2 separate regions of the Homo sapiens genome follow, and region 2 is reported to be linked to region 1. Evidence: microRNA targets listed by miRTarBase, many of them from high-throughput screens and not tested one by one. Region 1 holds a microRNA gene; the other region holds the end of a gene's coding sequence.

Evidence for each region. Region 1 holds the annotated microRNA hsa-miR-6792-3p (CUCCUCCACAGCCCCUGCUCAU, at 1,772-1,793, opposite strand). A microRNA usually pairs through its seed, bases 2 to 8, with sites in the 3' UTR of a target mRNA and lowers its output. Matches are read on the target gene's strand: a 7mer-m8 pairs with bases 2 to 8, a 7mer-A1 pairs with bases 2 to 7 and ends in A, and an 8mer does both.
Region 2: miRTarBase lists SOX17 as a target of hsa-miR-6792-3p. Seed matches in the 3' UTR shown: 7mer-m8 at 261-267.

Annotation. Positions count from the first base shown.
Region 1 is chr19:7,616,192-7,619,272 of GRCh38, reverse strand. It overlaps MIR6792 (microRNA 6792), which reads right to left and starts at 1,834; the gene lies at 1,768-1,834. CAMSAP3 (calmodulin regulated spectrin associated protein family member 3) reads right to left here. Exons shown (of 17, transcript NM_020902.2): 14 at 2,651-2,750; 15 at 1,835-1,947; 16 at 1,612-1,730; 17 at 969-1,521. The coding sequence ends at 1,216.
Region 2 is chr8:54,459,789-54,462,869 of GRCh38, forward strand. It overlaps SOX17 (SRY-box transcription factor 17), which reads left to right. Exons shown (of 2, transcript NM_022454.4): 2 at 1-1,104. The coding sequence ends at 207. Among named protein-coding and RNA genes, the nearest start is that of SOX17, 3.4 kb to the left of the region's middle.

The DNA of each region.
Region 1 (3,081 bases):
GCTGCCCAGGTCTCGCCAGCCCCTGCCTCTCAGAGCCCTTCTGTGGCCCCAGGCAGCTGCCGCCTCCCTGGGGTGGCACCCACTGTCTGTTCCCCACTAGGGACTGGCCCTTGCCCTCAAGTCTTGGAGTCAGGCAGGCTCTGGCCCAGCTCTGGGAACTGATTAGTAACGCGTTTCTGTGCCTGGACGGGGGCCAGGCGCCAGACCTTGTGCACGGCCCAGGACCAGGGCGTGGTCCTTAGTCCTAAGCCTGGGAAGCCATTAGCGGGCTGTAGGCTATTAAGGGGTTTTAAGTATCAAGGGATATAATCAGATTTGTGCTTCGAACGGGTCACACAGGCTGCTGTGTGGGCAGGAGGCAGCTGGGGACATGGGGAGGCCCAGGCCATTGGCTTGGACTTTGCAGGGAGGTGACAGGGCTGGAGAGAAGCGAGTGAGACAGGAGGGGAGGGCTGAGCTGTGTAGAACTGGGCGGCAGCTGGGAAGCCAGTGCCAGCCTGGGTTGCAGGGCAGGCCTTGCATCTGAGAGAGACACCCAGGCAATGGCAGGGGGCAACTGGATTGTCAAACACAGATCTCAGAGAAACCTGGAATCACTGGCCCAGAGGTAGATGCCAGGCCTGGAAACACCAGGCTGGCCAGGGGAGACAAGATCAAGTTAGAAGTTGGCCCCATGCCAAACGCTGGTTAGGGCCAGTAACAACAGCCACACAGACCAGGAGAATCCAGCAAGCGGGGGTGGCCAAGGCCACAGGAAGGGCCAGTGGGACACCTCGAGCCTGAGAGATCAGTTCAGAGGCAGCTTCGAAACAGCCCTGGCTGGGGGCTGGGAGTGCCCTGGCTGAAGCTGCATTAGGGGATTATGGGGGTTGAAGACAGGAGTTGGTTTGAGAAAGAACAGGAGACTAAAAACACAGCCAGGGAGTGTGGGACCCCGGCCAGCCTCGGAGGGGGGGACAAGGTTCAACTTCTCTTTAAATTATTTTATTCAAGAAGTGGGGGAGGACAGACAAGGGGACTGAGCTGAGCCCTGAGTCCCTGAACCTCCCAGCTCAGCCCCCACAGCAGGACTGGACTCAAAGTCAGAGGGTGGAGACTCCAGCCCCACCCAGACACGGTTGGGGACAGACAGGACCCAGGAATACCGACTGACTGTCCTCCAGGGGATGGCGGCCGCAGCACACAGGGCCCGGCCCGTGGACCGCCCGGGTGGGGCTATTTGGGGGTGCCGCCGCCCTTCTTGGGAGTGGTGGGTTTCTTGCCCTGCCAGAGGTGTCCCTGGATGGTGAAGGCATCGACGCTCATGGACATGGTCTTGGCGGGGATCTGGGTGAAGCGCTTGCGGTCCGAGTTGTACTTGTAGATGCCTTCCACCATGGCGGGCGTGACGGTCCGGGGCCCATACCCTGCCAGCCGCGACAGCTCCTCTGTCTCCCCCGACAGCGTGTAGAGCGCCCGGAACTGGCAGCTCGAGTCGCGAAAGAGGATCAGGAAGTGGTTGGCCTTGCTTTTCTCAATTTCCTGGGCAGGAGTGCTGGAAATGGTCAGCTGGCCAAGTCAGGCCACCCACCCACCCACCAGCCCCCAACTCCCACGTGTGGGCGGGCTCACCTCCAGAATGCGATTCTTCTGCGGTTCGTTCACCTTGCCCGCCAGGCAGCAGTGTGATAGGGCATTGTGGATGATGAACTTGTTGGACTTGGCGCTGGGTTCTTTGTACAGCCGTGGACCTAGAGGGTGAGGCAGTGGGAGGGGGTGGGGGGCAGCAGGAATGAGCAGGGGCTGTGGAGGAGGGTGCCTGTTGCTCCTCACATCACCCAGAGCCCCTGCTTACCTGTGTACTCGGGCACTGACGCTGGGGAGGAGGCATTGCTGCCATTTTCCCAGTCCCGTTCGCGGCTTCCAGGCAGGCGGCTTGGGGACATGAGACCTGACGGGGAGGGAGCCCTGCAGTGGGAGAAGGATGGGATGGAGGTGGGGTCAGGATGGGATGGAGGTGGGGTCAGAGATGGGAAGCTTCCCTATGTGCAGAGGGGCCAAGGAAAATAAGGGCCACGGCTGGGCATCGTGGCTCATGCCTGTAATCCCAGCACTTCGGGAGGCCAAAGCGGGCAGATCACTTGAGGTCGGGAGTTCGAGGCCAGCCTGGCCAACATGGTGAAACACCGTCTCTACAGGCACGGGTAACCCCAGCTACTCAGGAGGCTGAGGCACGAGAATCACTTGCACCCAGGGGGCGGAGGTTGCCGTGAGCCAAGATTGCGCCACTGCACTCCAGCCTGGGCGACACAGCAAGACTCCCTCTCAAAAAAACAAAAAAAAAAAAAAAAAAAAAAAAGGCGGGCCACACACACTGCAGAGGAGGCGGTATACACTGCACACCCTCCCAAGTCCATGCAGTGCCCCGTGCTGTCCTCCTCCCACAGGAACACCTGGCACTCAAGTGCACTGAGGCACATGCTTGAGTCCTGTCTGCCAGGTACAGACTATGCCCCATGCACACGTGCCCACACGCGTCCCTCCATCTCTTCATGGCGTATCCATAAACTCGAGCCATACCGCCCTCTAGGTTCACCCAGATGCCCACACACCTCCCAGGCTCTGGGAAGCCACCCGGCATACGAACCCCGCCTGTGCGGGCTAAACTCACCGAGACGTGGGCCTCTTCACCCCGAGGTTATTGTGGGCCTCGTTGGCCACAGTGGACAGTGACAGGGTGGACTGGGAATAGATTTTGCTCAGCCGAGAGCCTGGGGACAGAGATTGCAGGTCAGTGCCCACCAGAAGCCCCTGCCCTCCACAACACCCGGTCCAGCAGGCTGTGGGGGGAACACAGGAGGAGTCAGTCCTGCCCAAGACCCCTCGGCCCTCTGCAGCACCCCTATGGGGGGACCCCTCTATGAGGGAGGATGCTTTGCCCAGCAGGCAAGTGGGGAGCAGCACTGGGTCAGCCCCTACTGGCAACGCCTCACCCCAAACATACTCCCAAAGGTTCCTATCCATGAAGCCACAGAAGAAAGACCCCTCATCCCACTGCACCCCACATCCCTATGGAAGTCTTTTTTTTTTTTTTTTGTCTTA
Region 2 (3,081 bases), not on the chromosome of region 1:
GACCCCAGTCAGCCCGCCGAGCTCCTCGGGGAGGTGGACCGCACGGAATTTGAACAGTATCTGCACTTCGTGTGCAAGCCTGAGATGGGCCTCCCCTACCAGGGGCATGACTCCGGTGTGAATCTCCCCGACAGCCACGGGGCCATTTCCTCGGTGGTGTCCGACGCCAGCTCCGCGGTATATTACTGCAACTATCCTGACGTGTGACAGGTCCCTGATCCGCCCCAGCCTGCAGGCCAGAAGCAGTGTTACACACTTCCTGGAGGAGCTAAGGAAATCCTCAGACTCCTGGGTTTTTGTTGTTGCTGTTGTTGTTTTTTAAAAGGTGTGTTGGCATATAATTTATGGTAATTTATTTTGTCTGCCACTTGAACAGTTTGGGGGGGTGAGGTTTCATTTAAAATTTGTTCAGAGATTTGTTTCCCATAGTTGGATTGTCAAAACCCTATTTCCAAGTTCAAGTTAACTAGCTTTGAATGTGTCCCAAAACAGCTTCCTCCATTTCCTGAAAGTTTATTGATCAAAGAAATGTTGTCCTGGGTGTGTTTTTTCAATCTTCTAAAAAATAAAATCTGGAATCCTGCTTTTTTGCTCTACTAGTACCTCTGTCACACTAGTCTTATCAAAAACCAGTTCTTAAGATCAATGTTAAGTTTATTAGTTAATGTAAATTTCTCATCCTCGAAAAGGGTGAACATAAATGCCTTTAAGGAGTATATCTAAAAATAAACATTAGGATATCTAAGTTTGATGTAATTGTTTCAGGAAGGAAAAAAGAAAAGCATTCTGGAATGAGCCTACTTCAAGTAATCTTAGTTTCTAAAACTAACAGTTAATATTTTCAATTCCAGTATATCACTTTAAGTAGAAGGGGATGTCCAAGTAATTTTGGTTTTCTAACTGTTGAATCATAAGCTTGACCTGCCCCCAGAGGCTTTTTGGATGTTTTTATCTGTGTTTTGCCATCTCTTTACACTCCTCGACATTCAGTTTACCTTAATCTTCACATTTTTACACCTTGGGAAGTGGCAAGCATCGCTGGGTTTAAGATAAAGGAGTCACAAAAACTAATCAAAATAAAATTTGCATTATGACAACTTTTAATACACTTTAGCATTTTATTTGATTGGTTTTTTTTTTTTTTGCTTTTAGATTTAATACATATACGGACGATTGCACAGACTTAGGGGAGAATCCATGAATGGTTTGTGTGTAGTGTCCCTATCTATCACCATTACTTTATCAAGAAGAAACAGTTACAGGGTTGTGAGTAAAAGATGGGGATCAGCCCCTGTAATCTGCCATACTAATCGCTGTGGCACGTCTCACCACATTTGAGATTGAGACATAAATGGAAACAGGTGACTTATAATGGGCATTTCCTGTGCCAGATGTTTGTTCAATGCCATTCTAAACAGTGTGAGCCTCAACAAACCTGCAGGTTTAGGTGCTATTTTTCCTATTTTGTAAGAAAAGGAGGCACCAGGCCTTCCCCTGCCATGTATATGAAGGCTTGTATTACAAGTTCTTTTGACATATTTCTCACCTGTTTTCCTCTGGGCCAGTATGTATTCATGGGCACTGGGAGAATTTACATTCTGTTGATGAGAAACCATATAATTATCCTTAGCAGCAAGTGCTATAGAAAAAGGAAAGGCTTGGAGGATAGCTTCCAGCATTTACATGGGAGAGATGTCTGAGCTGAAATGATTGGCTGGATTCTCTTGAAAAAGGGCATGGAATATGTTTTTTAGAAGGGATTCCTGGAATGTGAAGGATAGACAGTTTTAGTGAGGAAAGGTAAGTTTATTCTGTCAGGCATAACAGGCTGCCTTTAAAAAGGTTAAATTCTTTCTCTTAGCTCAGATGGGTTGTTTCTGCTTCCAGCCTGAGCTCCTTCTGCAGGGTGTCCCAAGAGTTCCCAGTAGATAAAGTGGACAGAAGGGCTACCAGCCCAAGTTCAGGGCTGTGCTCAGATTACACTTGGCATTTTCATCATAGTCAGCCCAAGAAGACTCAGTTTTACCCTTGGCTGCCATCTCTTAACGATATTAAGATAAGTACAGAAAAGAAAAAGAAAAAGAGTTCTTAGGGGAAAGATCTAAAGTCCTGTAAATTACATCTTTAACTACTCACTAGGCGCAGGTGGAAAAGCAGTAAGAGCTAAAATTGTTAAGTTAATGTTCATGCATTTACATGGATGGAGGGATTGGTGTTCACAAATAATTTTTTTTGGGTAAGAAGCATCAAGCCAATTCCTTCTCTTTCCTCAAGCACACAGATCAAGTGACTGCAGGTAGCAGCTAGTGATTTTTTTTAATTCCTAATTTTAGTTTTTATGGGTACATAGTAGGGGTATATATTTATGGGGTACATGAGATGTTTTGATACAGATATGCAATGTGTAATAATCACATTATGTAAAATGGGGTATTTATTCCCTGCAGCATTTATCCTTTGTGTTACAATCCAATGATACTCTTAGTTATTTTAAAATGTACAATTAAATTAATATTGGCTATAGTCACTCTGTTGTGCTATCAAATACTAGGTCTTATTCCTTCTATGTTTTTTTTTTTTTGGTAGTTTTAAATTACCAAAACATTTGGTATCCTTAAACCCTTTCTCATTTTAAAGTACAGGGATGTGGGCCCTGGTGGCAAAATTAGAAATAGAGCTTTGGGGTCCATTACAGACCATTATAGTTTTAAAGTGAACGACAGAATGTAAAACTTCTGCCTAGGTCGAACGACTCTATGTCATCACCAAGTGAACAGACCTCCCCCCACCACCAGGTATGACATCGCCAAATGCATAAATCCCCTCTGTGACATTACCAAGTGCCTGGATACCCCCATGACATCACCAAATACGCAGACCTCTGTTTCCTCAAGTAGATTCAGATGAAGTGACCACAGGTACCAGCTAGTGAATTTTTGAGACAAAATATTAAATCTGTCTCAAGTTTTTACTGTTTTATTTTGGAGACAAATACACATAAAGGATACATTGCTTTTCTACCCATGTCTAATTTGGTACTTTAGAATTACATTAGGAGGTAAGAATCCAGCTCTTTTATGA